Regions from separate parts of the Homo sapiens genome. Here regions 1, 2, 3, 4 and 5 are each reported to be linked to region 6. Evidence: microRNA targets listed by miRTarBase, many of them from high-throughput screens and not tested one by one. Region 6 holds a microRNA gene; each other region holds the end of a gene's coding sequence. Distances are from middle to middle.

Evidence for each region. The annotated mature microRNA hsa-miR-3973 reads ACAAAGUACAGCAUUAGCCUUAG and lies in region 6 at 3,011-3,033, opposite strand. An mRNA with a match to its seed (bases 2 to 7 or 8) in the 3' UTR can be bound and repressed. Matches are read on the target gene's strand: a 7mer-m8 pairs with bases 2 to 8, a 7mer-A1 pairs with bases 2 to 7 and ends in A, and an 8mer does both.
Region 1: the mRNA of RPS24 is a reported target of hsa-miR-3973. The part of its 3' UTR that is shown has no 7-base or 8-base seed match.
Region 2: miRTarBase lists B4GALNT3 as a target of hsa-miR-3973. Seed matches in the 3' UTR shown: 7mer-A1 at 4,483-4,489.
Region 3: the mRNA of CCN1 is a reported target of hsa-miR-3973. Seed matches in the 3' UTR shown: 7mer-m8 at 1,286-1,292.
Region 4: the mRNA of TMPO is a reported target of hsa-miR-3973. Seed matches in the 3' UTR shown: 7mer-m8 at 3,082-3,088.
Region 5: miRTarBase lists HIPK3 as a target of hsa-miR-3973. Seed matches in the 3' UTR shown: 7mer-A1 at 4,473-4,479, 7mer-m8 at 2,958-2,964, 7mer-m8 at 2,887-2,893, 7mer-m8 at 1,261-1,267 and 7mer-A1 at 1,177-1,183.

The regions. Positions count from the first base shown.
Region 1 is chr10:78,039,438-78,044,697 of GRCh38, forward strand. It overlaps RPS24 (ribosomal protein S24), which reads left to right. Exons shown (of 6, transcript NM_033022.4): 5 at 767-788; 6 at 1,178-1,260. The coding sequence ends at 769. Among named protein-coding and RNA genes, the nearest start is that of RPS24, 8.2 kb to the left of the region's middle. RefSeq lists enhancers at 1-463, 464-973, 1,294-1,795, 1,864-1,913, 3,194-3,303.
Region 2 is chr12:560,889-566,148 of GRCh38, reverse strand. It overlaps B4GALNT3 (beta-1,4-N-acetyl-galactosaminyltransferase 3), which reads right to left. Exons shown (of 20, transcript NM_173593.4): 20 at 2,640-4,806. The coding sequence ends at 4,698. It overlaps NINJ2 (ninjurin 2), which reads left to right. Exons shown (of 4, transcript NM_016533.6): 2 at 1-199; 3 at 748-932; 4 at 1,468-1,853. The coding sequence ends at 914. Among named protein-coding and RNA genes, the nearest start is that of NINJ2-AS1, 67 kb to the left of the region's middle. RefSeq lists enhancers at 1-232, 233-734, 2,899-3,400.
Region 3 is chr1:85,581,966-85,587,225 of GRCh38, forward strand. It overlaps CCN1 (cellular communication network factor 1), which reads left to right. Exons shown (of 5, transcript NM_001554.5): 3 at 1-319; 4 at 451-659; 5 at 775-1,985. The coding sequence ends at 1,077. Among named protein-coding and RNA genes, the nearest start is that of CCN1, 3.8 kb to the left of the region's middle. RefSeq lists an enhancer at 1-454.
Region 4 is chr12:98,546,727-98,551,986 of GRCh38, forward strand. It overlaps TMPO (thymopoietin), which reads left to right. Exons shown (of 9, transcript NM_001032283.3): 9 at 847-3,625. The coding sequence ends at 1,132. Among named protein-coding and RNA genes, the nearest start is that of TMPO-AS1, 33 kb to the left of the region's middle.
Region 5 is chr11:33,352,915-33,358,174 of GRCh38, reverse strand. HIPK3 (homeodomain interacting protein kinase 3) reads right to left here. Exons shown (of 17, transcript NM_005734.5): 17 at 1,152-5,083. The coding sequence ends at 4,607. Among named protein-coding and RNA genes, the nearest start is that of KIAA1549L, 21 kb to the left of the region's middle.
Region 6 is chr11:36,007,954-36,013,213 of GRCh38, reverse strand. It overlaps MIR3973 (microRNA 3973), which reads right to left and starts at 3,116; the gene lies at 3,010-3,116. The region is part of intron 1 of LDLRAD3 (low density lipoprotein receptor class A domain containing 3); the gene reads right to left.

The DNA.
Region 1 (5,260 bases), not on the chromosome of region 6:
ACTAGCACTGCTCTGAAAAGCCAGCTGGAAAAATCAATGCATTTGAGTACATAAATTCTTTGGCTCCAAAGAAATGCCATAGCAATATTGCTTTTAATTCAGTTTTGTTTAGATGTTAGAATTGGTATTTGTTCTTGCTTTTTGGTTGCGATGGAGTTATATACTAAGTTACTTATACTAAGGCATTAGTAGTCTCATATCTGAGGAGCAATTGTATTTTTAGTTCAGCTAAATTAATGCCTCTTTTTAAATACTAACTTGTACTACTTTTGTGGCTGTGAATGGTATCTTTTATTGAACTGAGGCAGCTTTTAAAAGACTTGCCTGATCATTTAGAGCACTCCCATTGAGGTTAAATTAGACTTGAATCTGTAATGATTCTCGTAACTGTTCCTGGTGTGTGTCCAGCACAATGTTGCTGGGCAGAGCAGAGGGGCAGAGGCTCAGGTATGTACTTCATTGACAAGTGGGCAAGGCCATCCTGGGTACCACATTGGCTTAATGATCTCTTCATTGTGAAGTCCGGCTACCTCGTTTGCATAAGAACTACAGTAATCAGGCAAGGCATTGTCAGAATTGGGAGGAATAAAATCAGTGAGTCTGGAAGGAGTGCTCTGTATACAATTGCAAAGAACAAAATGGTCATCTTTAAGGTACCTGATTGCATGCACTTAAATGCAGATTATTTTGGAGTTTGAAAAGGGACTATTAATGAAATCTTTCTTTTCCCTCCTTTCTCTTTTTCCCTTCCCCGCCACTGATTCAGTGAGCTGGAGATTGGATCACAGGTATAATTCAAGCTTTTCATGTAGTCATGTAGATCACTAGACTCCTTGGTGTACTGACGTAGCAATTTAAAAGCAGATCATGTGTAGTACATCTAGAAGTAGATTTACAAATATTCTGAAGAGTTGTAACCTTTTAAAATACTAACAGTGACATGGTTTTGTTTTTAAGGTTTAGCAATATTTAGCCCATTATTTTTGTTTTATTCTTAACTTGAATGTTTGTAAATTTTATTTCTTGATGCTTTCATTGTGTTATGATAACATCAAAATAACTTGATATTCTAGGTTACTAATAATTGTTGTGCATGAGTGTTACTACTTTTGGAATTGAAGACTTTAAAGAATTTTAAAGGCAGTTGTTGACTAAACTTCTTTCTCTTGATTCACAGCCGAAGGAGTAAAGGTGCTGCAATGATGTTAGCTGTGGCCACTGTGGATTTTTCGCAAGAACATTAATAAACTAAAAACTTCATGTGTCTGGTTGTTTGAAATGTATTTGCAGTTTCCTGGGACTGCTAGGAGGTTAGTCTGCTGATTTCAGTTGCTGTCCAAGTTCACATGCTCCATGAAGCATTCAGTGAAAACTTAATGTCATGGGGTGGTGTTTGTTTGCTGCTTGGTTTATAGCTTAGGTGGGTTCATCTGGGAGTCAAGCTTGTAAATGCTGTGTTAAGAACCATGTCCGCGGTGGACGCAGTGTAGTGGCTCACAGTCATCAGCACTTTTGGGAGGTTTGGGTGGGATGATTACACTTAAGCCCAGGAGCTCGAGGCTACAGTGAGGTGTTTTTTTTTTCGAGACAGGGTCTAGCTTTGTTACCTAGGCTGGTCTTGATTGAACTCGGGCTCAAGCGATCCTCCTACCTTGGCCACATAAAGTACTGGCATGAGCGACCACGTCTGGCTTAGAGTCTAAAAAGTACCATGTCTGGATAAACTGGAGAAATCTCAGGAAGCAGTAGAGAGCTGAAAGACTTGGTTGGGCATGAAGGGGACTCAGGAAAAGCAATACCGTGAAGGCAGAAGGGTTGAGGTTGCAGGAAGGAAGGGTAGTGGAATGTTTTGGAGAAAAGATGGTCACAGCCCCTGCATGGAGCACCTACAGACAGGAGGGCAGGGCTGAGAAGAGTTAAGTCATGGGGCTGGGCCTGCTGGCCAGGGGGTGGTTGGAGTTCTGTTTTCATATCTACAGAGGCTGTGTACTTCGGTTTGTGGGGCCTCTGGCCCTGTAGGTTCTCTTGCTAAGGAATCTGCTACTACTTTGCTAGGACCAGGAAATGGCTTACTAGTACAGAACGTGTGGAAGAATGGGGTCTTTGATGTGATTTGACATTTTTTGATGAACAGTGCATACCAGGCTGAAGGTAATGCTAGGGGCAGCAAAGGTTGGGGTTTGAGATGCAGTTTCCTGTGACTGAGCTGGAGTGTGGAAGCAGAGAAGGCACCCTGTGAGCAGCTTGCAGAGGCAAGGTGGTGAGGATCCTGACAGTGCTGCAGGGATGGGATGGGATGGGATGGGACAGGACGTGGAGCTGGGGGTGGTTGCTAAGTTGATGCAGGGAGAGTGGAAGGAAGCAATTGAGAACTGAAGGGTAGGAAATAGTTTCTGATGTGAAGAAAAAGGGCATAGCTGCAGAGAGCCTGAATGATTGAAGGTTGGCATCAAAGTCACGAAGTGGGGAGGCTTTTCTGTTCAGCTGTGCTCAGGGCAGAAGTTGTAGTCTTTCAGCCAGTAGCCTTGGGAAGGGAGGTGGGATGAAACTCAGGCTTGGCCTATTTTTCCAGAGGATCCACTTGGGTTGTGATATTATAGAAAATGTGGCAGTCTTGCTGTGAGCCTTGTTAGGCATAACATTTGGAAACTTGGCAAATTTTACGTAAAGGTCTGGATTTCCAGCCTCTTGAAATACCAGAAGCAGCAGTAGTAGCCCACCTTCCTGTTTGATAACAATTGGCAGGGCTCCAGGCTGGCTGCATCTGTTGGGACAGGTATTCTCTGGTCTCCACAGCCTTTGCTCCTACGGCCAGCTAACACCCTCCTCTACCTGCCCTCTGGTCTTCTGTCCCTGCTGCCTGCTTCTCTTCCATCTAGTCCATCCAAGTGTTTTTTGGGGAAGTCACCTGGTACCTTGTTAGGGTTAATTTGTCTTTTAAATTGGGCTCCCAAGGGTATCTGCTAGCTACCCTGGCTCACAAGGCTATTTTGAGGCTGAGGATGTAACAACTGTGAAAACAGTTTGGAAACTAGTGCTAAGCAATTGTTTGTCAGGAAGCAGGGACTTGTGGGAACTCAAACTGTGGACAGATTCAGCACATTGTAGGCCCTCACAGTAACCAGGCTACCCTGTGCTGTCAGCAGGCTTTGGAAGAGCCTCCATAAAATGCAAACTTGACTTTACTAAGCTGAATCAATATTGAGGGAGCACATCCCTTCCTTCAGCTTGTCACTGATGGGAAGCTGTGGCTTAGAGAGAGCAGGGATCTTTGAAGAGTGATGAGAAACTCAGCTAGAGGTGGTTCTGGGAAGGTACCTGCAGTGAATATTTGGGGTGCTGCTTTTTAGCTTTTCCTAGCACCACAACCATGAGTTCTGTTTGTAGCTGGATGTGCCTATGTAATCAGGCAGCTTTCAACTCTGCACTCTTCCTTTCTTCCCTGGCAAGTTGCTTATTTTAGGCTGCCCTTAAAGACAGCATCTTACATGGTGCTCTCATGGAGCCGAAACAGGTGCTGTCCTAAACTCTGAACAACGATCTCCATTAATCTGCGCGCGCACACACATACACACATATTTTTTTTGAGATGGAGTCTCACTGTCACCCAGGCTGGAGTGCAGTGGCAGAATCTTGGCTCACTGCAAGCTCTGCCTCACGGGTTCACGCCATTCTCCTGCCTCAGCCTCCCAAGTAGCTGGGACTACAGGTGCCCGCCACCATGCCCGGGTAATTTTTTGTATTTTTAGTAGAGATGGGGTTTCACCATGTTAGCCAGGATGGTCTCGATCTCCTGACCTTGTGATCCGCCTGCCTTGGCCTCCCAAAGTGCTGGGATTACAGGTGTGAGCCACCGTGCCCGGCCTAATCTGCATGTTAACTCCAAGAAGCATGTCTTCCTGGACCCACGCTGGAAAGGGTGTAGAGCAGTTAAGCATCTTACCAGTGTCTCACCCATGAAGTGGTGGGGATGGGATTGGAATGCAGTCATCTGACTCCAAAACACTGCATTTTTTCAGGCACTCCAGTATTAAGCTACTTTGCACTGTGCATATAATGGTATATAAAACTCATGACTGCCAGCAGGGTGCCAGTTGCCATGGGTTTATTGAACAAGTGTTAGATGGCTAGCCAAATTCCCAATTTACTGACCACCTGCTGTGTCCCTGTTCTGCAAGTTGGGGATAAAGAAGCTGTTCTGTCTTGAAAGCTCTGAGGTAGTTAATGACGATCCCATGATCTGGCTTCTGTTCCTTTCTGTGAAGTAGCAGATAGTGTATGACTGTGACGTGATAGAAATTGAGAGCCAAGAAGATCAGTGCAGGGAGGCTGGGTCTTGGAAGGCTTCCAGGAGACATACAGCAGTCCCCACCTATCTAGTTTCAGTTGCTGTCGGTCAACTGCAGTCTGGAAAATTATCATGGCTAAATGGTCTGGGATCACCCAAAAGTGATGATCCTCTTGAAGTGTCATCAGAAGGTCAATAGTAGCCTAACACGTCACCATGCCTACGTCATTTACCTCCCTCTCCCTTCCACATAGGCATTTTATCTCCCATCAAGAATGTGAATACATGTACGTATTCAGAGGAAAAGAGTTCATGCAGCCTACTACAGTATAATTATTAATATCTTACTCCCTAAATTATGAACTTTAATTATGTATATATAGCAACAAACTTGGTGTAGATAGGGTTTGCGGTTTCAGGCATCCACTGGGGGTCTAAGAACGTTTGCCCCATGGATAAGGGAGGATTACTGTAACACCAGCAGTGGCAAGAGACATGATCTGATTTGGATGCACAGGAGAAAGTTCTCATTTGAGGCCATGAAAAATAGGAAAGAAAGCAGGGAGATGGGAGCAGGCAGTGTGGGACAAGGTGAGACCAGTCATTCTGCAAGGGGAAGAGAGGATGACACTGGGGAGGTGGGAGCAGAGTGGGTAGGTAGGCATTCTCTTGAATCAACAAGATGGAAGGCCCTACATGACTGATGCCTTTGAGCAGAGTTTTGCACAATGCATTTCTGGTGGGAGATACTCCATTTCAAAAATAGTCTTCAGGTTGGCTGCTAGAGCACAGAAGTATGACACCTGACTCATTTGTGCTGGCAGAGAGGCTCTCCTGGGTTTTAGAGCTTTGTGAACACACCTCCATACATTAATCCAACTGTCCTTCCCCATCCACTCACCCTTGAACTTCCCGCATGCCAGATGTTGAGGGGAGGCAGAAATGAGACCTGCCTCCCAGTGCCCACAGTCT
Region 2 (5,260 bases), not on the chromosome of region 6:
ATCAACCTGAACCATTACGCCACCAAGAAGAGCGTGGCGGAGAGCATGCTGGACGTGGCCCTGTTCATGTCCAACGCCATGCGGCTGAAGGCGGTGCTGGAGCAGGGACCATCCTCTCACTACTACACCACCCTGGTCACCCTCATCAGCCTCTCTCTGCTCCTGCAGGTGGTCATCGGTGTCCTGCTCGTGGTCATTGGTGAGGAGCCCAGCCTGCAGTCAGACCTTCTGCCTCGGCACCCGTGGCTGGCAGAAAGGCCCCACGTGTCCCCTGGGCCACCCTGCATTGGCACAGGCAGCTTTGCAACCACACGCTGACCTGCAGTGAGCCCTCCGCTAACAGAGGCCCAAAGACCAACTTCCACCCCGCGAGGGCAGGCGCCCTGTCCTGTCTCCTGGTATCCCATGGAGCAGACCCTCCGCAGTACCTGCTGAATGACTGCGCCAGCACCTCGCTAACTGCTAACTCACTCACTCGCTCACCGCTTCTCCATGAGCACTCGTCCCCACGCTTACAGGACCCAGCTTAAGTTCCCAAATCCTGGTGGGATGAAGCACACTAGGGTGCCCCATTGTACTGGTTGGCGAGGGCAGAGGCATCTCAGCCCGATGACGACCACCTCCCTTGATTTCTGCCACATGGGTTTCTGAAGGGCCCCTCTCTCCAAACTCTGGTGGGTGTTGTGGGGGCAGCTCCGTGCTGTGGCCCCGTCTCTGACCCTTTCCCCCCACTCCACTTCCCTGCAGCACGGCTGAACCTGAATGAGGTAGAAAAGCAGTGGCGACTCAACCAGCTCAACAACGCAGCCACCATCTTGGTCTTCTTCACTGTGGTCATCAATGTTTTCATTACAGCCTTCGGGGCACATAAAACAGGGTTCCTGGCTGCCAGGGCCTCAAGGAATCCTCTCTGAATGCAGCCTGGGACCCAGGTGAGGGAGGATGGAGGAACCCCAGCTCCAGGGACTCCCCAGGTGGCCCTTCTCTCTCCTCTGGGGCTTTGGGGCAAGAAACAGATCCCTTGCCAAACAAAGGGGGAAGGCCTGTAGCTCCGAGAGCAAGGAGAGGATCTGCAAGAGCCTGGCCTCAGCGAGGCTTGCACAAAGCCCCACTGCTGTGTTAATGGCTCTCTGCTCTCAGGCTCAGGTTTTCCCACGGTCTGGGACAGGGTGGAGGCGATGCCATTAGTGGTTGACTCTGCCCCTCCGGCAAGAGGAAAGGTGGAGATGGGGAATTTCTCCCTGCCATTGTCTAGCAGCTCTTGCTACTGACTGTGGTCCATGGGTCAGCAGCATCCACAAACCACCCAGGAACTTGCTGGAAATGCAGAATCTCAGGCTCTGCTCGAGCACGTGCTACAGGCACGTGCATGAGTAACGTGGCCAGGTGCATCCTGGGCATGCTGAAGGTTGAGGGGCATTGATCTGGCCTGCCATCCTCATTGCCTCTTCTCTGCTTCCTCAACAGGTTCTGGGCCTGGAACTTCTGCCTCCTTCCTCCGTGATCTGCCAGGCTCGTGGGCACTTTCCACAGCCCAGGAGAGCTTCTGAAAGGACAGTATAGCTGCCCTTGCTCCCTACCCACAGCACCTGAGTTAAAAAGTGATTTTTATGTTATTGGTCTAAGGGACTTCCATCTTGGTCTGAAGTCCTGAGCTCAGACGCAGGTACTGCCAGCCATACCTTCCTGGTAGCATCTGCTGGACCTAAGTAAGGCATGTCTGTCTAAGGCCAAGTCTGCCCGGCTTAAGGATGCTGGTTCTGACTCTACCCCACTGCTTCCTTCTGCTCCAGGCCTCAATTTTCCCTTCTTGTAAAATGGAATCTATATCTATAAAGGTTTCTTCAAATCCACTCTTGAGTCCACTTACTTGTCTAGTCCTGCAGGCTCAGGCATCCAGGCTGGTCTCCATCTGTGCCTTGGAGAGGGCTCAAGAGAGCAAACCCCAGACCTGGAGGGTGGGAAGGCTTTTAAATTACTTCCTCCTCTGTGGGTTCTGCTCGGAGCCAATGTTCCTGGCCCAGATGTCTTGCGCTTATCGTCATCTGCCCCATGAACTGTAGATTAGTCCATTGCAGGTGGATGCACATATGCACAATCTTCTCCACGAACCTGCTGTAAGCTATTCTGGCTTTCAGTCTCAGCTTCCCTTAGGCATGTGTTTAAGGACTGCAAACTCATTTTGATCTTTGCCTGGGCCAAATATAACGAGGAAGGTAAATCTGTAAAGCATTAGCAAAGCATTGCCAACTCAGAAACAGAAATGATTTTTAGAAGGTCTGCCAGTTTAGAAGCAGCCACTCGTTGGCTTCTCTCCACTGCTCACCAAACCGTTCTGGCCCTATATCTAGCCTTCTCCACCCAGCGTATCCATAGCTTTCCTCGGCTAAAACCACCAACCTCCATTAATCTGCTGAACAGAAAATGCCTAGTCTATTACACGGTGAGCTGCTCAGACAGGAACAATGTTGTCTTCTTCCTGAGTAAACCGCAGTGCAGAGAAGGCCATCTCACACACAGCAGGCATCACACTTGTGGTAAGGGTGGAGGGTGGTGTGGGAGGGTCCTTGGCACGCCCACCTGGGCCCCTCAGCCCAATCCTTTACATCCGTGAAGAGCAACAGGAAAAGACAAGCACCTTTTTTTTTTTCTAAGAAGTTGCTGTATTTAATGCTTCCCCTCCCACCATCCCACACCCTCTCCTACCCAAGACATTTCTCTAGGGAGTAGGGGCCTTGCCCGGCCCTTCCTCTTAAGGCAGATGGTGTGGAGGTAACATCAAACGCAAGGCACTGGCCCAGGGCGCAGGGGTGTGGGCAGGGCAGGAGGCTGGGCTGGCTCCTAGTCATTGGAAGTGAAGCAGGTGGGCAGTTTGGGCTGGTTCCAGCCTTCCAGTGCAATGCCCGAGGACGAGAGTGGTCCCAGAAAGAAACTGGCAGCCCCACTGGCCAACTGCAGCCCTAGCCTATGCCCCACCATCCTTCTCCAGGGGCCAGTCGGCCTCAGCAGGGACCAGAAAAAGCCACAGCCCAGGGAGCAGGTATGGCCTTCCTAAGCCACAATCTCAAAAGTCTCTGTCCTTCATGATTCCTTAAAGGGAGGCAGGGATTCTCCCCGACCCCCCAGAAGGTTCTCCACGGGCTCCATTCTCCCATGTGCCAAACTCGTGCTCTCGGGGAATGCAGAGCCCACTAGGCAGACCCTGCAGCTCCAGTGCCGTGGTTTGGACCGTCACAGCCTGGAGCGCGGGCTCAGTGGCCTGGTCTTCTGGGCCCCGCCGCACCTCCCCCAGCCCTGTGCTCACCTCCCTAAACAGACTCTGGAGTTCAAGATCCAGTGTCCAATGCACCATGGGTGAATTCACAGCAGTGGTGGAGGCAGCAGCAGCAACAGAAAAACCCCCAGCCACAAAAGCACCGGGGTTATTAGTGCAAGAGAAGTACAAGGTCTCCAGGTGACAGAAAGGGTGGCATCGACTAAAAAGGCTAAGGGCTATTTTCCCTGAAACTGCCCCCCTCTTCAGTTCCTCCTGCCCCCACTCCTCTCCCTGCCTCCAGGGGATATCTCAGGGCAATGTCCTCACCTCCCCAAACCTCTCATCCCGCCCCCTTCTTATCCTGCTCCCTGTCCAGGGTTTTGCCCCCGTACACCCTTTCCTCTTCTTCCACTCAAGGCCGGGTGGCCAGGGCTCTCCCTGCAGAAGGGCAGGTCTGCAGTGGAGCTGGACTGTGAGGCTCACAGCTTCCACTTCCCTTTTCGTCCCTTTCTGTCCAGCCCCCACCCGCTTCTTGCCTAAGGAAATTGACAGATATGTCCACATCCTCTTTACCTCTTCTCCATGTCCTCTCGGGAGGCCTTACCCACAGGCACGCCGGTAAGGGAAAGGGCTTCTCTCCCCTGCCTTCATCACCCTGCCTGTTCTGCAGGCCTCAATGTCCAGTGCCAGGGAGTGGCAAGCCCCCTGCCCGCCAGCTCCCCACCTCCCAATGCCCAAGCACCAGAAACAGCCCGTTCTGTGCTTCTGGTCTGACGTGAGCCATCCGGAGGAAGTTAATGCCCTAATCAGTGGCCAGCTGTTTGGTGGCTACTGGGAGATGTGTGTCTCTGGAAGGCACGAGCCTGGGGTGGAGCAGAGACCTGCCCCACGTGGGACCAGTCCCGCGGCCAGGGACAACGCCCAAGGGACATAGGAGTGGGCGGGAGGCCTGCACGTGGGGACAGTCCCTCAGTGCACAACCTCACCCCCGCTCTGGACAGCAGTTTCGGTTTTCTGTTTTTAAAATCCCCGCCCCCCAATAAAATATGTCCACTAGAAGAGGGTCTGGTGGTCAGCGCTTGGCGTGAGGAGCGCTTGGGGGATGTGGGCGTGCACCTTCATGGATGAGGATGGTGTCGCTCAGTCAGATCTCTCCTTCCTGACCCGTCCTTCTCAGGAGCTCTTCCCGTTCTCGACTGAGCAAGTGGTCCCTCCTGGCCTCTCTCTCAAAGTCCTCCCTTCTGAAGGCCCAGGAGGCAGAGACAGGAGCCCCGGAACCTGCCTCTGTGAGGGGACAGCTCCAGGTGGAGTGGGCCGTCAGCTTCGAGGCCTCTTGGGGTCCAGCCGTCACCCCACTCCCCATCCCTGAACAGTAGCAGGGCCCTGGGGAGCCACTGCTAGTCCAGAGCGGGGAGTGCTGGGCCCCGCGGACACCCTCCGGCTACAGCGTCTTCATCTGGCGACGGCTCCACATGCCTCGCTTGGAATGGAAATGATGGAAGAAATTCCTGAGGGAGAGACGCTCCACGTCCAGGCCCGCTTGGAGTATCCTGGAGGAGGAGAAACACAGATGAGCCAACAGAAGCACAGAAGGCAGCTGGGGGGCCCCTCCCCATCGACCACAGACCCTCTGTTCGCTCCCCACGGGGCAGGGAAGGCAGGTGCAGTGGACGGCTGTGGGCTTTGAAGCCAGGCAGCCTGGGTTTGGATCCCAGCTGCATGACTGGGTATGTCACGCCTTCTTTCAGAGCCTGTCTGCTCATCTCTAGGAGGACGATTATCACATACGTGTAATGAGAGGATAATGTGTGATATAGAATTCTATCTATCTAATATTAGAGTAGACATACTATATACACATCAGAGGTGGGGAAGACGAGAAGGATGGATGCTGAGGGCTCAGCACGGCTCCTGGCACACTCTGAGTGCCCCATAACTGGCGCCCAGCCTCCAGGGCACACGTCATAGACGGAGGAAGGCAGGGCTGCTGCACTGAGACACCTG
Region 3 (5,260 bases), not on the chromosome of region 6:
ATCTACCAAAACGGGGAAAGTTTCCAGCCCAACTGTAAACATCAGTGCACATGTATTGATGGCGCCGTGGGCTGCATTCCTCTGTGTCCCCAAGAACTATCTCTCCCCAACTTGGGCTGTCCCAACCCTCGGCTGGTCAAAGTTACCGGGCAGTGCTGCGAGGAGTGGGTCTGTGACGAGGATAGTATCAAGGACCCCATGGAGGACCAGGACGGCCTCCTTGGCAAGGAGCTGGGATTCGATGCCTCCGAGGTGGAGTTGACGAGAAACAATGAATTGATTGCAGTTGGAAAAGGCAGCTCACTGAAGCGGCTCCCTGGTAAGTGGAGACTGAGCACTTCAGACACTGTACTGAGATGCATTTCTGGTCTAAATCTTTGTAGAAATGAGTGCTTGAGCCTGTTTGTGTCGGTATGCCTCTGAGAAGTCTTCCCTCTTATATGTCTCTAGTTTTTGGAATGGAGCCTCGCATCCTATACAACCCTTTACAAGGCCAGAAATGTATTGTTCAAACAACTTCATGGTCCCAGTGCTCAAAGACCTGTGGAACTGGTATCTCCACACGAGTTACCAATGACAACCCTGAGTGCCGCCTTGTGAAAGAAACCCGGATTTGTGAGGTGCGGCCTTGTGGACAGCCAGTGTACAGCAGCCTGAAAGTAAGTTCCTTCAGGGACGTGTAGACTGTTGCCTGGCAGGTGGGTGGGATGTGAACATCTTTTTGAAGAAAGAGAAATATCACCCCTAACTTTCCTTCTCTCCTTTCTCTTACAGAAGGGCAAGAAATGCAGCAAGACCAAGAAATCCCCCGAACCAGTCAGGTTTACTTACGCTGGATGTTTGAGTGTGAAGAAATACCGGCCCAAGTACTGCGGTTCCTGCGTGGACGGCCGATGCTGCACGCCCCAGCTGACCAGGACTGTGAAGATGCGGTTCCGCTGCGAAGATGGGGAGACATTTTCCAAGAACGTCATGATGATCCAGTCCTGCAAATGCAACTACAACTGCCCGCATGCCAATGAAGCAGCGTTTCCCTTCTACAGGCTGTTCAATGACATTCACAAATTTAGGGACTAAATGCTACCTGGGTTTCCAGGGCACACCTAGACAAACAAGGGAGAAGAGTGTCAGAATCAGAATCATGGAGAAAATGGGCGGGGGTGGTGTGGGTGATGGGACTCATTGTAGAAAGGAAGCCTTGCTCATTCTTGAGGAGCATTAAGGTATTTCGAAACTGCCAAGGGTGCTGGTGCGGATGGACACTAATGCAGCCACGATTGGAGAATACTTTGCTTCATAGTATTGGAGCACATGTTACTGCTTCATTTTGGAGCTTGTGGAGTTGATGACTTTCTGTTTTCTGTTTGTAAATTATTTGCTAAGCATATTTTCTCTAGGCTTTTTTCCTTTTGGGGTTCTACAGTCGTAAAAGAGATAATAAGATTAGTTGGACAGTTTAAAGCTTTTATTCGTCCTTTGACAAAAGTAAATGGGAGGGCATTCCATCCCTTCCTGAAGGGGGACACTCCATGAGTGTCTGTGAGAGGCAGCTATCTGCACTCTAAACTGCAAACAGAAATCAGGTGTTTTAAGACTGAATGTTTTATTTATCAAAATGTAGCTTTTGGGGAGGGAGGGGAAATGTAATACTGGAATAATTTGTAAATGATTTTAATTTTATATTCAGTGAAAAGATTTTATTTATGGAATTAACCATTTAATAAAGAAATATTTACCTAATATCTGAGTGTATGCCATTCGGTATTTTTAGAGGTGCTCCAAAGTCATTAGGAACAACCTAGCTCACGTACTCAATTATTCAAACAGGACTTATTGGGATACAGCAGTGAATTAAGCTATTAAAATAAGATAATGATTGCTTTTATACCTTCAGTAGAGAAAAGTCTTTGCATATAAAGTAATGTTTAAAAAACATGTATTGAACACGACATTGTATGAAGCACAATAAAGATTCTGAAGCTAAATTTGTGATTTAAGAAAACAGCGCTTCATGTTCATCAGAATATAAAGCCTAAGGGTCTCCATCACTCTGTGAGATGGCTATAATAATTTATTATTTTAATCACCAGGTTAGTGGGCATGCCACTTTAGTAGAGTAGAGAAACCCTTTAATGAAAAGGGGTAGTCCATAACTCAGGCTGCCCACATCCAGACCCATGGGCAAGATTGAATATAATTAATGTATTCTAAAGACTTGCTTGTTTATAACTTTATATTTTCCCAATACCGTTCCTAAAAATTAGAACTACTTAGAAATTTACCCTTGGCTGTTATGAGGAAAAATCTGAGTCTATAGGAGTCAGTTTGTTTTCACTAAATGAGCTTGAAGCATGACTTGTGTTAATCCTAATAAGCCGGTGATTAGGTAAACATGCTGTTAAATGCAAAGGAATGCAAGGAATTTCAACTACTTTTCCAATAGCGTGAGGGCCAAGCTACCCCATCCCCCTTTCCTTTTTATAATATACGTTATATTGATGGGGGAGGGAGCAGTTATATAGAGTTGGCTATTCAGAAGGTCAAAGGTCCAGAGCATTCCTAAAAGAAAGGGACCCAAATCATAGGTCTAGGAGAGGTTGAGAAGGCTGTGTCAATGTTTGTGAAAATGTCAGTAGTCTGTTTCAGAAGCATCTTCATCTTTAGAAAGCGCTGACAATAAACCTTTTATAGGGAGAAGTTTTCCTTTCATCATCACTGTTGGCTCCTGTTCAAATCCATAGTGAAATATTTCAGTCCGCACTTAGTTAAGAGAGTACTTGAGTTTTTAGGCAGAAGAGAAAGTGCTTTTAAAAGGAATGGAGGAGGACAGCTCCTGGGATCCTGAAGGGATTTTTCCAAGTAGATTAAATAAGATCCATACTTTAATGAAGACCCACAGAAAAATACTGCCTAAGAAATGGTTTTAAAGCCTTATGGAAATGCATAGAGGTTAATATAAATGCACTAGTAAAATCTATGGCCAAAAGCCTTCACTTCTGATTTTGACTTGCCTGAAATATTACAGCTTGTGCCTTCTGAATAGTCAGGTTTCTTGCCTGAGACATTCAAATGTTAAGGTATTTGAGAATTTAAACATCAGCTGGCCCAGTCGTGGATGCAGTTAAACTTGTCAGTGCAATGTAACGTGTGAAACATAATAAAGGTGTGAGGCTTTTGTGGTGCAATCTTGTTGAACAGACATCTAAATCCATAGGCAAGATTTACACATTCCCAAGCATCAACCCTGAAGTATTGCTCTCCAACACTGGAGTCCAACAAATTGCTTCTTATGCAGAGATCAAGGAGCAATATTTTACAGATCCTTTCAGTGTGCAGGGAAGTAGTATTTGTCCAAATAAGCTCAAATGTGAAACAGAACCTAGTATGGGAAAACACTGAATCTTTGGGTTATTAATTTCATCCTAGTAAATATAATGAGGGTGATTGAAAGTGCCAATTCCATTTACAATAAGTGTGTTCAATTAATAAAGAAGATGAATACAAGCAAATTATGTCTTTTGTTTAGCTATAGAAAAACCTGAAGAAATTAAAAGTAGTGGAGAATAAAATTATGATATTTAGAACACGTAAGTTTTACCTACATCCAGAATGGAGCTCTGCCCACTTTAAATATTGAGAAAACAAACCAAAAATTATGCATCTGCATATATGAAATAGAAGTTACATATAGAAATATTCATTATAATATATATGTACCTTCCCATGCACAGTAAAGACCTTGGGTTGTTCTTGCTTTTCAATCCAAAAGATCCTGGTGGTCTTGAGCTATTTTTTGGTAGAGATTTTAGAACTGAGAGAGTGATCTCAGAATCTTAGGCATTCCACGAATTTTAAGAAATACTCTATGGGACATTGAGCAGCACAGCAAGTAGTCTCACTATGACTATTTTTTCATATGAACATATGTGTTGTCTGCTCCACAAAGAGATGCAACTGAGTCAAAATTAGCAAAGCATATTTTAGAGTTATGTTTTCCAACAGAGGGAACAGACTTGGTTTGTTCACAACCTCTTCTTGCAGCCTTCTGGCACTACTTGAAAGTCAGTTGAGCAATAGCAGTGGTTCAGTATGACCACAGTACAGAGCAAAGCTATGCTCTGGGCAGAATGGCAGGTGATACAGTGGAAAGAATCCCATGGAATCATGTCTTTTAGCACCAGCTCTGCCATGAATTCACTAGGTGACTCTGGGCAAGTTTCTGTTTCACTCCCTCATGTTAAAGTAGGAAAATAGCTTTCAGCATTTTTGTCACCCCAAAAACCCTTTCTCATACACCCACTTCGGTACATTGGCTCTCATACCTTAAAACTTTTATCTCCTCAAGTAACCACATGTGTGAACTGAAAACTGCTCAAGGCTTTCTGTCATCAAATGCACTTGTTTCCATGAAGCGTTTGAAAATGTATTGTGGCTAGACCCCTTCCCCCCCCTTTACTTTCTAAAGCACCCTTGGTTAGAGGACACAGCAATTCCTGGATCTCAGAGTCTACAGGTCCATACTTTAACCTCACTGTATAGCCCTATCCAGGCCTCATTAACTCCTTGCCCTACACAACTGATGCTTTAAAACAAAGCATATTCTGAAACATGACAATGATCCATTTGTCCTACAAATAGATTAGATATAGCTGTGACTTTCTCCATTGGTGGTGGGCAATATTCATCCATGTAATCTTATAAACTACAATTAATAAATACTCAGATGCATTTGTTACTGCTTTGCTGTTTCCATATATTCTGTTCATATATTCTGAATCTACCCCTTTCTCATCTCCAGAGCAAACCTCTAGATGAGACCACCATCATCCCTTGTCTGAATTACCAGAATGGCCTCCTCATTTATAGCATATTGTATTTTCCAAAGGTGGCTGCAGCAATATCTCCCACTCCATGTGCCCTTCTGCAATGTGCCTCTGTTGCTCCCCCATTAATGGGGGGGTCTATTTCTCCACCCTCTTGGATGTGGGTGAGCTCTTGACCTGTGAATGTGGAGGAAGCAATGCAATGTGGTACAAGTTCCACATGCAGTACTGGCTAGGAGTTCCTCCATCTTTTCTCTTAGAAATGAGCTTCCATGTAAGAAGTACAACTACTCTGAGACCAGCAGACTGTGAGAAGCTGAAGCCACATGGATAGGCCTTAGAGAATGAGTTGCCATGTGGAGAAAGAGAAAGGACCAGGAGCACTTGGGCATTACACCTGTCCATGAAGAAACCATCTTGGAAGTGAATCCTCCAGC
Region 4 (5,260 bases), not on the chromosome of region 6:
TTAATTCCCCTAAGCCCACCAGTAAATATTCTTGAAAGTTGAATGAGTTTCAAAATTGCGATTGGTAAATGGAGGATTTTAAATAAATCACTTACTTACTACTTAAATTCATATGTTAAAATCTAAACGAAAATCTAGTGAGAAATAGTTTTTCCCCCCTAAGTTTCTCTTTTCTAATTGAAAAGGCTGTGTTTATGTATCTTAATTTTTAACTGAAAGAAACACAGCCAAAACTGTTTTGTTTTTCCTCTTTACTCCTAAACATGAGCTTTGAAGAGCCTTTAAGAAGGCAGGTTTAGTGACTATTTATCAGTGTTCTGAATATTCTTTTCTAATAAAGGATGCATCGAACTTTTTTTTTTTTTTTGAGACGGAGTTTTGCTCTGTTGCCCAGGCTGGAGTACAGTGGCGTGATCTCGGCTCACTACAACCTCCACCTCCTGGGTTCAAGCGATTCTCCTGCCTCAGCCTCCTGAGTAGCTGGGATTACAGGCACCCACCATCATGCCCGGCTAATTTTTGTATTTTTGTAGAGACAGAGTTTCACCATGTTGGCCAGGCTAGTCTTGAACTCCTGACCTCAGGTGATCTGCCCGCCTTGGCCTCCCAAAGTGCTGGGATTGCAGGCGCGAGCCACCATGCCCAGCCCATCTAACTTTTAAAATAGAAAATATGTAGAAGTTTTAAATAGGTTGACTGACCTCACTGCTTTATATGTATCAATTTTCTACTGTTACCTCAGGGAATGTGCTTGGAATTAGGAGTGGCAATGACATTTTATGTTATTTCTCTAAATCATGCCTTTATCTAAAATTATTTTTCTTTTCCTCCTTTCACTCCCAACAGTGCTAGTTGCCGCAGACCAATCAAAGGGGCTGCAGGCCGGCCATTAGAACTCAGTGATTTCAGGATGGAGGAGTCTTTTTCATCTAAATATGTTCCTAAGTATGTTCCCTTGGCAGATGTCAAGTCAGAAAAGACAAAAAAGGGACGCTCCATTCCCGTATGGATAAAAATTTTGCTGTTTGTTGTTGTGGCAGTTTTTTTGTTTTTGGTCTATCAAGCTATGGAAACCAACCAAGTAAATCCCTTCTCTAATTTTCTTCATGTTGACCCTAGAAAATCCAACTGAATGGTATCTCTTTGGCACGTTCAACTTGGTCTCCTATTTTCAATAACTGTTGAAAAACATTTGTGTACACTTGTTGACTCCAAGAACTAAAAATAATGTGATTTCGCCTCAATAAATGTAGTATTTCATTGAAAAGCAAACAAAATATATATAAATGGACTTCATTAAAATGTTTTTGAACTTTGGACTAGTAGGAGATCACTTTGTGCCATATGAATAATCTTTTTTAGCTCTGGAACTTTTTGTAGGCTTTATTTTTTTAATGTGGGCATCTTATTTCATTTTTGAAAAAATGTATATGTTTTTTGTGTATTTGGGAAACGAAGGGTGAAACATGGTAGTATAATGTGAAGCTACACATTTAAATACTTAGAATTCTTACAGAAAAGATTTTAAGAATTATTCTCTGCTGAATAAAAACTGCAAATATGTGAAACATAATGAAATTCAGTAAGAGGAAAAGTAACTTGGTTGTACTTTTTGTAACTGCAACAAAGTTTGATGGTGTTTATGAGGAAAAGTACAGCAATAATCTCTTCTGTAACCTTTATTAATAGTAATGTTGTTGTAGCCCTATCATACTCACTTTTTAAGACACAGTATCATGAAAGTCCTATTTCAGTAAGACCCATTTACATACAGTAGATTTTTAGCAGAGATCTTTTAGTGTAACATACATATTTTAGAGAATTGTTGGCTAGCTGTACATGTTTTGAAAAGCTGTTTAGCTAGCTATAAGGCTATAATTGGAAATTTGTATTTTTTATTTACAGCAAAACATTTATTCAGTCATCCAGTTTGCTACCAAAATATGTTTTAGATAAGTGTGTGTATGTTTGTTTAGAAGTTAGAAATTGTAAACACTGGTCTTATGTTTCATTTGGATTCATTATTGCATTGTCTTGTTACCAGAAACAAATTTTGCCGAGCTTTTTTTGCCCTATATTTCCCAGCATAATTTGATTAGAAAGTACAAAAAGGGCCAGGCGCGGTGGCTTACGCCTGTAATCCCAGCACTTTGGGAGGCCAGGGCGGGTGGATCACGAGGTCAAGAGATCAAGACCATCCTGGCCAACATGGTGAAACCCCGTCTCTACTAAAAATACAAAAAAATTAGCTGGGCGTGATGATGTGCGCCTGTAGTCCTGTCTACTAGGGAGACTGAGGCAGGAGAATCGTTTGAACCCAGGAGGCAGAGGTTGCAGTGAGCAGAGATTACGTCACTGCACTGTAGCCTGGCGACAGAGCAAGACTCCATCTCAAAAAAAATAAAAAAGTACAAAAAGTACTTGCTTTTATATTACATCATAAGCAGTAGTTAATAAAGTTGTATACTCTTAAGAGGTGGGCATTATGATTATTTTTTATTTTTTTATTTTTTATGAGATGGAGTCTCACTCTTGTCACCCAGACTGTAGTGCAGTGGCACGATCTGGGCTCGATGCAACCTCTGCCTCCCAGGTTCAAGCAATTTTCCTGCCTCGGCAGAGACGGGGTTTCACCATGTTGGCCAGGCTGGTCTCGAACCCCTGACCTCAAGTGATCAGCCCACCTCAGCTTCCCAAAGTGCTGGGATTACAGGTGTGATCCACTGCACCCGGCCGGCATTATGATTTTGTGTACTCTTGAAATGGTTATCTTTGTGGATGATTTTTTTTTTTAAGCTGAAACTTACCTCATGAATAACTTGATTAAAGTAGTAGGTGATTAAAATTTCAATAGAATCAAATGAGACAAAAATTTTAAACTGACTCATTTGAGTTTCAACTTTACAGTCATTGACCATAAAGCACACTAAAAATGTAAGTTATTTTTAAATACATCTGAAATAAAAATACTTACTAAAAAGGAAGAAGCCGAAGATGTATATTTAGACCAGCACACAATTTTGATTTCAATTAGCCTTATTCTAATATTTAGCTTTTAGATCTTTCATACACATTTTCACGTACTTTGCAATTGAGACCAGAAAGACTTGTAGGTCTTTCTGCAGAATGAGTGGGTCCTTGCAAAGTGAGTGGGAAACTTACTCCTAGATCAGAAATGTTTGCCTCTCTGAGTAAAATGTTTCTTTCAGATGAGCCATAGAGGGGGCACCTTTTACTCAACTTTTCTTTGTTTTGAAACTTTGTTTCCCATACTGTTTTCAGCCTTTTGTTTATAATTAGAAATTGTGAGAAGCTTCATTTAGTGTTTAAAAATGTGGGGAGATAAATCAGACTTAACATGTATGTAAGATCAATTCACTTAAAAGTATGGTCCAAATAGCAAAAATAGGACCAGGTGAAACATGTAGTCATTTTTTAAAAACATGTACTTGGTCTTTTGTGTGTGTCTGTTTTATTCCATTAGAATAAATGTGTCCTTGATGTAAATGCAAAGCATTTCTTCCTGATTAAATTGTAGATGTAGACTTTACAATATAATTCAATAATAAAAAGTAATTAACCTCTAGTTTTGTCGTTGCAATAAATGGTTTTCAGATAGCACAAACTGTGATTTCTGGATAACATTTCTTATGTGATATTTATGGATTATTGTGTTTTATTTCAGTCTGTTCATATGTTTTACTTCTTATTGTAATCGGGTTCTCGTTTATTCAAAGGTAAGCAATGTGTAGCTACTGTACTCACAGAATGACATTAAGCGCTCCAAGGCACCTCTCCCACACCTAGTTCCTTTTTCCCACCACTTTTACTGTCTTTAGTATTTACCTATGACCCTTATGATTGTTAGTCTTGCTTTGAGACTAAGCCCGTGTCACTGTGATACGTCATGGAGCTGTGCTCACAAGATGAAAGTGCCATTATGTCTTCCTCATTCATGTGTCCCCAGAGGTGATTTGACTTAAATTAGTGTTTCTCAAGGTAGTATAGACACCATAATTAATTATAAGGCAAATCGCATCAAAGGCTTAAAACAACAAGTTTTATTGCATGCTTACCATGTGCTAGGTACTTTTCTATGTGCTTAATATGTATTGATTCACTCAATCCTCACGATAATCCTATGGAGTAGGCATTTTCGTAATATCATTACAAATGAGGAAACTGATGGTTAGAGGTGTTAGGAAGCTTCTTCATGTTTGCACACAGCTGAGAAGTGATGGCTCTGGTTGCATATAATATGGCAGAGGGAACCTAAAACAAACAATTCTCTGTTTACATGCTTTAAACCAGTTCTGTGTTCAGCCCTGCTCCTTTCACAACTTTGGTGGTGCCTTCTGAGTTTCAAACCTCTGAAGCGTTCTTTTGGGTAAAGTAGCTCACTCCTAGTTTTTCTTGTTTTTGTTTTTGTTTTCTTTGAGACAAGGTCTCACTTAATCTTTCTCTGTGGCTATTTAAATCTTCTGGCCAGGTATGGTGGCTCACACCTACAATTCTAGAACTTTGGGAGGCCGAGGCAGGCAGATCACCTGAGGTCAGGAGTTCAAGAGCAGCCTGGCCAACATGGCAAGACAATTTTTAGTCTCTACTAAAAATACAAAAATTAGCCAGGTGTGGTGGTGGGTGCCTGCAATCCCAGCTACTCGGTAGGCTGAGGCAGAAGAATGACCCGAACCTGGGAGGCAGAGGTAACACTCCAGCCTGGGTGACAGAGTGAGACTCCATTTCAAAACAACAACAGTAATAATAAATTTAAGCCTTATTTAATTTTGCTAATTTTTCTGTTTCTTAATCTTTTTTTTTTTTTTTTTTTTTTGACAGAGTCTTGCTCTGTCGCCCAGGCTGGAGTGCAGTGGCGCCATCTTGGCTCACTGCAACCTCTGCCTCCAGGGTTCAAGTGATTCTCCTGTCTCAGCTTCCCGAGTAGCTGGTACTACAGGTGCGCCGCCATGCCCAGCTAATTTTTGTATTTTTAGTAGAGACGGGGTTTCGCCATGTTGGGCAGGCTGGTCTTGAACTCCTGACCTCAAGTGATCCTCCCAAAGTGCTGGGATTACAGGCGTGAGCCACCACCCCTGGCCTAATTTGTTTTTGTTTGTTTTTTTTTTATCTTCCAGGCAGCTTTTTGAAGTATCTTTTGCTATCTCACTCTACCTCTTTGTCATTGTGTTAAACCCTTTTTTATTCCCTTATCAGTATTCAAGTCTCAGTAGAAATAGGCTGTAAGCATGTGGTCAGCCTG
Region 5 (5,260 bases), 2.7 Mb from region 6:
AGAGGCTAATTTACTTTCAAGTAAATTGCAAAATCTGAATTTCATCTCTATGTACGATCAGTGCTTTGACCTAAATGAAAATGTTCATGTTATTTTGAAAAACTCACCCTCAAAAGAATGACTAAAACAAAAGAAACAAAAAATAATGTGTTAGTGAGGACATAAAGCAACTAGAACTCTCATACATTGCTAATAAGTGTACATTAACTACTTTGGAATAGTGTTTGGCAGTATCTGTATACACCCTATGTCCTAGTAATGCACGTCTACATATATACCCAAAGGAAATGCATGCATATGTTCACCAAGAGATATGGACAAAACATTCATGGCAGCCCTATTCATAATAGCCAGGAGGTAGAAACTATTCAGATGTCAAATGTCCATCAACAAAATAGTTCTGTATACACACAAAGGATTACTATACAGCAATGAGTATAAATGAACTACACACAACATGGATGTATCTTATAAATGTTTAACAAAAAATAGCCAGATGCCAAAGAATGCATATATGTTATACTTCAATTAAACATTGATAGGGGAAGGCAGAAATTGAAAATACGTATTCTCACTATTGTGTTCTGGGGGAGTGCTCCCCTAGAAACTTTCCAACTGAGGTTCCTTGAAAGTTAGATCCTTGAATTATGAGGTGTTGGTATTTTAGGATGTAAGCTGGCCTACTACAATCACATTCTTTCGAAGTCATATGTTTTAAGTATTAAAGATACATGTGAATTCCCTATTCATCCACACATATTGAACAGAAATTATTTCTCTCAAAAAATATTTGCGGAAACTTAATATTGAAGGAAAATGGGACAGGGTCATCTTATGGTTGCAGGTAGTCCGGGTACACTGCCTCAGACTTCGGTTTTAAAAGAACTGATAGAAAGTAGATTAGTTATGGTTTGATATCCTGGTGTGTATCTCAGATTCCAACTCATTGACAATGTGACTTTGTGCAAGTTCCCTAAACATTCTGCAGCTATGCCCTCATTTGTGTAACAAAGATAATAATACCTATCTCACAAGGTGGCTTTGAGAGTTAAATAAGATGATGTAAGTTATTAATAGATACTCAATATTGTTAACCTCTCCCTTCCCTACCCTGTAAGGAGTATTGGGGTGGAAAAAAAGTCAACAAGCTGTTTGCTGCAATATATATATTTTAATTCAAAGTGAATCGACAGTAATACACCATAAATTCTTATTTTGACACTCACCAAAATAGTCACCTGGAAAACCCGCTTTTTGTGACAAAGTACAGAAGGCTTGGTCACATTTAAATCACTGAGAACTAGAGAGAAATACTATCGCAAACCGTAATAGACATTACATCCATAAAATTTTCCCAGTCCTTATTGTAATATTGCACAGTGCAATTGCTACATGGCAAACTAGTGTAGCATAGGAGTAAAAGCAAAAACAAATAAACCAAAGAAAGAAAGCCACAAGTCTAAAATTGTTAAACAATTAACAGTTCAAACTTAGTAATCAAATCTGTATCATTGGATTCATTAAAACAAATCTTCCTACACCTTGCAGTGTATGATTTAACTTTTACTTAACACAGTCCAAGTTTAAAATTAGCAGATTTTAAAAATGAAAATGTTTTGCTAATACAGTAACATATTTAATTAAACACGCTGGAGGAAAAAAAAAACAACTAAATATCAGGATATTTGATTTAAAAAACATTTTGCAAATTAAAATAGTATGCAAATATGCAACTTGGAAATCATGCAGTGTTTTATTTAAGAAAGCATTAAAACCGAAGAAAACTGGTCAAAATGGTTTTTAAAAGGTATAAATCCAGATTACTTTGTCAATATGCTAAATTAAGAATTTAGCAGAATTTTGAAATTTATTTTAAAATACATTAAAATGCCCATGATTGCAATTAAAGAGCAGTGTAGTTAACTGGGATATACCTTTATCAAACATTAATACTGTATTATGAAAATGTTGAAGTTTACCATTTATGTCAATTTAACAAGACTGCTTTAAGTCTTGGAAATTAAAGACAAAAAATACAACATTTCAGGGTAGTAAACATGGCCCTAAACAAAAAGAAAACTCTGTCAGTTTTGTACCTGTTGTGATACAATCAATCCTTTGCACTTGGTGTTTCTGAAACAATGTGTTGCCAGCATTGATTCTTTCCTAAGAAGTAAGCAGATCCTAATAATCTGCTGGAACATATAAATAAAATTAGAAGGCTGTGGAGGGCAGCAAATTTACTTAAATAGTGACCCCATAAATGTGTCATCTGTAAATAATCTTTTAAATTAATCTTAGGCTACTCCTTTTTAAACATTTAATTTTTTATATATATATATTTCTATTTGTATAAAATGCATAGAATTAATTACTAAAAACACTGAAACTTGTGGGGAAAATTAAGTCCTTCATTTTCAGTGTGACTAAAAATGTACTGCTGGTTTTTACTTTATGATCTAATACTGTAATTTTTAAAATCAATTTCAGGCACATTTATTTCATTGATGATTATTAAATAAAACACTGCTTGTGTTAATGGAGTGAAGAAAACTTATCCATTATTAGCTTATTGTGAACGCTGTACTAGAGCTGTACTAGTGGTATACAATTCATTTATCAAAGAAACGCTGTAAATCCAAAACATCTAGAGTTTTACACTCCAATGCTTTGTACTGTTTATTCCAGTAAATGCTGTAAGATTATATTCCAGATTTTTAAGGAAAAAAGTTAAGTCAAGCCTGCAAGATACAGCTTTCTCAAGTGTCTACAATGCCAGTATGAAAATAAAAAATTAAGTTACACTGATACATCCAAGTTTTTTTAATATGCAGTGATGAGCACAAACATTAATAGAGATAAAATACTGATGCAAATAACACACCCCAAAGTAACAAATGCAATTATTTTCCACCATTTACAATACAGTAGTTACAATGACACTCCAAACAGAAAAGCAAAGTAAAAAATCAAAACCCCAATTTCTATTCATGTAATTAGACTTATACAGAAATTAGAAGGCTAAATAACAACTAGTTAATCACCTAATTTCACAGCTATCTGAAGTGGCAATCGTTATATAGCAGCTTATCTATGATACATTCAAGATAAATGATACAATTTATTACTTGCCTGTAAGCTAAAACACAGCCTCAATTTAATACCTTTCCTTAAATTCCACCTTTACACTACAATATACTTGAGGTCTATGCAAAAAGTAGCTACCTTTATATAGGAAATGGATGATTAAGTCTTTGGTGCTGTAAAAGCAACTTCATTTAAACAGACATAACCACTACCATCACCACCACCCAAAAAAGAAAAAAATGTCGGGGAAGGGGGGAACTCAACACACTTCCTAGAAAGAAAAAAAAGCATGTAATTTCTGTCCCTGACGGAATGTATTAAATAAGCAAACATCACCAACAAGCAAAACAAGTACTGCAATGTAAAAATACTTAAAAAAAAAAAAAACCCTCTCACATGCATAAATCAAAAATTGCACACAAAGAACTCACATCTTTTCAAGCTTCAATAGTAAAAGTTCTGCTACTATTTATTAAATACTGCATGGTTTGCCCAAGCTAAGATAAAACCACATCATGAATCAATGAGCATTTTGCATTTTATTATCTACCCAAAGTCATGCCTACTGTACCTCTAAACATTTTATTAAGTCCAATTATACAGCAAACACTCTCAAAATAAACTTAGATTGTATTGCAGTTTCACTTAACAGTATATAAAATGCTGTGCTGTGACAGTTATCAACTATCCATTAGATACTGAATCAATTTTTCTTAAGCACTACTAACTGCTTGCTTTTCTTGAAGCTAGATCATTCTGAAAAATCAGACAGCAGAATTCAGCTATAGCAAACATGCTGCCCTCTTAATAAGGAAAAAAACAGCTACTACCTGAAATCATACCACACAAAAACAAAAATGAACATTACGCTATCAAAAGGAAACTAAATAGTAGGTCTGAATTTTAAGTGCTGCAGTCCTCAACATTTATATATAGGTAATAACATTAACAACCTCAAATATTTAAGGCACTATGTGTAGGAACGGTTTACAATGCAGCTGAGATTATTAGAACAACATTTAAGAGCAAAGTCTAGGCAACATTTTGCCCATGCAAAAGACACATGCAAATGTAAAGAACAATAGCTCAATTTCTTAGGTAAGTGACCCAACATTTATACACTAAGACACGGATAATACAATTCACTTGTATGCTGTAATTCTGACATATGTGCATCTGTTGCTCTAAGTCTGTACACAGAATGGCTTCCCAAATGTAGACGTGTCTTGCACTAGTTAGAAGGCAATTTATAAAAAATAGCAGGAGCAAAACTGGACTTCTGCTCCCATAAGTCACCTGTCTAGAGTTACTACATAAGAAGATAACATGACCAAAGACAAGTTATACCAAATGTGCAAAACACATCAAAAGTGAGTTTTTAAAGCTCAAAGTTGTTTAAATTGCACCCAAGTCTACATGATTCAAAAATAATTTTCTTGTGCCATGGCTAATATTAAATACCATGTTTTTATTTTTAATCAAATGTTTGTATCATTGAGCTTCCCCAATATACTGTTTTTCACATATATGGATACTGGCTGAGTTTTGTTGGACTCAGTGGAAATCCAGTATATGCAGGTGATGCTGCAATGTAAGAATGTGGTGGGAAGATTGGTTTGTACTGAGTCTGATGAATGGTTGGGGATGGTAACAGACGGGGATTTAAGCCCACTGGGACTTGGTGAACTATGCCACTGGGATGGGAGATATTATAAGTTGGATGCTGTAACATAGGTCTTGAGGTACACGGAGAGGCTAACAGGTGGGCCACTGGTGCAGCACTACTGAGGGTGGCTGATGATGGGTATGGAAGTAGAGTAGGCTGTCCTCCGAGGTGTGTATTTCCAGCCAGGTGGGCATGCACTGCTGTGTGATTGGGACTTCCATGAGAAAGAGTGAATGGATTACTGGTAACACTAGTAGGAATATAAGCTTGCTGTCTTCTGTGCCCAAAGTTTCCATTCCACTCTTGATGCCCAGATCCAAAGTGCTGAACCTATCCACAAAGAAAAAAAAAAAATGACTGAATAACATACCTTAAAAGATAAAAGGAAAGAAAGAAAGGGAAATTACAATATACCCTTTGTGATTGATAACTCATAGTGGATCTCTCAGAACTAACTTATACTAAGAATAACTAGAGGAGAGAAAAATATCAATTCCATATATATTA
Region 6 (5,260 bases):
CACAATTTCAGAAAAAAATGTATTATTACCCAACTGCCCTTATGAATCAGGCATTATCCTCAGTACTGCTCAAAGGACAAGAGATAAGAACACTCAGCGATATTTGGAAAACAAAATATTTCTCAGGTTGCCTGTACAAATAAGGAACAGCATTTCTATCTCTAAATATACCAAATATAATACCTTTGGGCAAGCTGATTTATACAAAATGGACATTTTTTATATTTCAAAATTAACGGTAACTTTAGAAGTATAATGGAAATAGAATTGAAACTGCATAAATTTCCAACCTCTGCTCCCAAACATCTGACTTTTTTCTTTTCAACTTTTCCATCCAGCTTTTTTCCAGTTTTAAAATTCCCAGAAGTTCACATCTTGAAATACAATAGTCCTCCCTTTTCTGCAGTTTCGTTTTTTGCAGTTTCAGTTACCCTCAGTCAATGGACTTCTGAAAATATTAATGGAAAATTCCAAAAATAAACCATTCATAAGTTCTGAATTGTGGTCCAATTCTGAGCGGTGTGATGAAATCTCGTGTCGTCCTGCTCTGTCCTGCCCAGGATATGAATCTTCCCTTTGTCCAGCATACACACACTGTCTACACTATCTGCCTATTAGTCACTTAAGAACGGTCTCAGTTATCAGATCAACTGCCTCTGTCTTGCAATGTTTGTGTTTCAGTAACCAATTTTATTTAATAATGGCCCCAAAGCACAAGAAGAGTGATGCTGGTAATTCAGGTATGCCAAAGAGAAGCTGTAAAGTGCTTCCTTTAAGTGAAAAGGTGAAAGTTCTCGACTTAGTAAGGAAAGGAAAAAAAACTTATGCTGAGGTTGCTAAGATGTACAGTGAGAAAAAATTTTCTATCTGTGAAATTGTGAAGAAGGAAAAAGAATTTGTGCTAGTTTTGCTGTCACACCTCAAACTGCAAAAGTTATAGCCAGAGTGTGTGATAAGTGCTTAGTTAGGATGGAAAGGCATTAAATTTGTAGGTGGAACACATGGACAGAAATAGGTTTCAGTTGACAGCAATTTGGTACTATATTCGGTTTCAGGCATCCACTGGGGGTCTTGAAATGTACCCCCCGAAGATAAGGGGAGACTACTATAGAATATATTAATCAGAATTCCTAACCCCTAGAGACTTTAGAATATAGAAGAACAACAATCTAAACTGATTAAAATCAATAGTAAGAAATCACTTTCGAAGAAAATAGCAAACTTCTATGACCGTACCTGCCTTCTTCCCCACAGTCATGCAGTTAGACTATGAAGTCAAACAGTCATGATGCTGGTGACAGGCCGCCACTCAGACTTCCCTTAGACGTGATGCCTGCATTCGTGGAGCACCCACTATGTGTTAGAGCCTGCACTGGTGCTTTCTGTTTGTCATTTAATCCACACTGCATCGGGTAGCTACTTATACCCATTTTCCAGATGAGGAAATTGAGGTTCAAGATGACAAGCCAGGTAATGAGAACTAGCATGCAAATCAGGCTCTAACTGGCTCGCTAAATCTCTTTCCAACTGACCTCTGCTATGTCCCCAAAATAGCAGAATAGACCTGTTGATGAAGAATACATAAGTTACAATTGCTTATGGTTCTCTCTCCACCCTTTCAAAGGTTATAATATCAGTATTATTGAGGTAGCAGAACTTTTGATACACAAATCCCAAATTAATTATACATCTGAAGTGTTGAAGGACCACCCAAATCTAGACTACAGCAATGACCACTGTGTTCTCACTTCTAAAATTCCTAGCCAGTGACCTCCTCAACAATGACATTTTTCACTGATTGGGGCCATGGAACAAGATATTTATATTTAATAGATACCCGCTGCCTATCGCATGCTCTGTTTTGTAGTAAGCACTCATTCAACTAACTGATTCATTCATTTACCCAAAAAGAAAGCATTAGACACCTACTATACTCAAGGTTGCAGGGAATACAAGACTTGAGCACATCAAAAACCTACTATTGAGCAGGAGAGAAGAAGTGTGCACCTAAAGAGCTATAAAATTAAAATTATTTTATAATTATAAAAGTTGGAAGTCATAAATGCCACAGAAGAAAGTAAGAAATGGAATGTAAGAATTACTAAGAGGGGCTGGGTGCGGTGGCTCACGCCTGTAATTGCAGCACTTTGGGAGGCCAAGGCAGGCAGATCACCTGAGGTTAGGAGTTCGAGACCAGCCTGACCAACATGGAGAAACCCCACCTCTACTAAAAATACAAAATCAGCCAGGCTTGGTGGTGCATGCCTGCAATCCCAGCTACTCAGGAGGCTGAGGCAGGAGAATTGCTTGAATCTCGGAAGCAGAGGTTGCAGTGAGCCAAGATCGCACCATCACACTCCAGCCTAGGCAACAAGAGCGAAACTCCATTTCAAAAAAAAAAGAATTTCTAAGGAGGGGGAAATTTATTCCAGGGGAAGCATCATGGAATGCTGCATGGAATAATTTCCACCCAGGCTGCTTTGCAGGTTGGGTATGATGCAGACCTCTATTCCAAATGAAACGCTGAGCTAAATGGAGGCATGAAAGCAAATGGTCATGGAGAGGAGGATATAAGGGTGGGAAAAGCTTTAAGTGCCAGACTATAGAACTTGGACTTAACTTTATACACAAGGAGAAGCCAACATCATCCGTTTTTGAGCAAGGGAGTGACATGAGATGAGTAATGCTTCAGGTAGGTTAACCTGGCAGCCCTATGTAGAAAGAGATGGGAAAGAAAAGTAATAAGAAAATCCAATTTGGAAGCTATTGGAAATTTTTAGGCATCCATTTGGGAATCAAAGAGTTGGGTCTATCTTCACTAATTCCAAAATATATTCTTCTTCTAATAAGAAATATTATGAAGGGCTGGGCAAACTTAAAGTAAATAAATCTATTTAGTCTCTTGACTATTTGCTGAAGGCAGAGACAACTCAAGTCATCCATCTCTGGCTTTGGAAAACAGCAGATGGTATTTTTGGCAGCAGATCCACTGTCCTAGTTATATGTTTTGCTAAGGCTAATGCTGTACTTTGTTTGCATTTCTTCTGCCTGCACCATTGGAGCAAGGGGCAAGCAATCCTAAAATGTAACAAGCAATACAGAGAGCTACCCTGGGCTTCAAATTTTAACACTCAGATACTCCAGACACAAACACAATAAAGTAGGTTATACTCTTCAGTCCCTTATTCTGATAGTATTTTTTGAGGCCTGAGCACTTTGTCAATAATTCTGACCAGTTTCCTTCAAATCTTCAAAACCCCAAAGACAACAAGCAAGATAAAAGCAAGGAGTAGAATCCGATCATGAGTGGCTATGTATACAAAGCTGGAGAATTCCTGATACTGGTTACAGATTTCTGGAAAACTTCTTCGTAAGAAAAATAAAACAATCTTTTTGAAAACTGTGTTATTTGCAGACCTGCCTTTTTGATGTGCTCTTTTCCATAATATGAATAATGGAAAAAAAATGTTGCAGGAAATGAAGTGACTCATAGAATTTTCTGCATGGATTGAATTTCTGCAACTTTCGGTAAGCAAATCAGCAACAGAACGAATGGCATTTGCATTTCAGCAACACCCAATCCACTTATAAGGGTGCATGACAGTGATTATAGTGGAGGTGGGAAACCCATTCTTTCCTAAAGAGTCTAATTTTATCTTCCCAATTCCACTTTACATCTTTCAGCATAAACCTCTGGCTGGGTGGAAATCCATTTCTATTCGGATAGAAACTAATTTTTCAGGTATGTAAGTGAAAAATAATACAGGACTGTCTTCTCCAATGCTATTCTTAGCCTTTTGTAAATCCAGGTGACCAGGATAGACAACCAGATCCTGCAAAGGGAGTTCGTCAAAGCCCTGCCTATGATGACTGCTCCCAGAGCAGGGGGTCTAAACTATGGTTTGGAAGCATTTGATTTAATACTATTAAAAGGTCTGTCTCAGAGCAAAAAAGGGAGTTTCCTGGGAAGCACTGCCAAGATAAGGAAATTAACTCTTCAGGAAAGTTCCAGGAAGAGAAAGGTAGAAGTAGCCACAGATATGAGTTGGGGAAAGGATGGACATTTCAGCAGTATGAAATCCATTTCACTGGATACCAGGAAACCAGGATAAAAGTGAAGGTGTGTACTTACTTGGGCCTTGATCTCAGAGTGTTGGAGAAGAGAGAAAAAAATACAAAGGAGGGAGATATCTAGCCGTGTCTCCATGTGGAGACAAAGGAAGGTAAGAGAATGGTCAATTAAAGGGAATAAAAAGACGATATATATTATTTTCATAACCAAAGCTGTAGGAGACTGCTATAATCTCCACAGTTGTAATGCTGCTGTAAAAACATGTTTTTAAAAATAAGGCCTCAGTGGAAATCGAAATCCAAGCTGGAAAGCCTACAAGGAAAACAAGGCAGTACTTCTTCCCTGAACAGCACAGTTTCCTGTGAATACACAGTGAATAAGAGCGGATTCATTTCTTAAGAAGACAAAACAAAGACCTCAGTTCTCTTGAATATGCTTATTAATATTTAGCCAGTTAAACATGGGCCTTTCCCAGTTGCAACTTGCCAGCCCATAAATATTTACTAGGAATTGACACAGGCACATACAGAGACAGATAAAAAATATATATATTCATTCTTTCTCACCCCATAGGACTGGAACACCCAAAGAATTGCCTGTGTATCGACAAACCCAATCTTGCAATAGGAGCATTTAAAGTTACATTTCTTGACCCCAACAAACTCCTGGGAGAAAGGATCCCTCTCCCCAGATTCTAAATTCCTCCTTATATTTTCTCAAGCCTTGAAGAGGTCCCAACACCAAATAGGAATGCTACCGTCTTCCATGAACCCTGGAGTTGGGATGGAGGAGGCTTTCCTTGAGGTACAACTGCACTCTCATCAAAGCACAATCTGTATCTAATCCACATTTTCAGGCCTCAGGTGCACATTCAAATGGCTTTTTGAAAAAATATAGGATTTTACCCAATTTGTTTACCCATTCTGCCTGGTTTGCGTCCCCAAGTGTTCTTTACAAATGACAAATAATATGCCCTCCTCACATAAAAATGGCCCTAATGATAACTACCATTTATTGGGTATTCTCCATGTGCCGGAGCCTTTACAAGCATCTAATATTTATAACAACTTTAATCAAAAGACTCATTTGCTCCCTTCCACAAAGGAGAAGAGGCCACTCAGGTAGGCTGAACAGTCCACCAGAGGTCACGTGGAGTAAACTGAGTGTCTGGGATTTCTACAAGGGTTG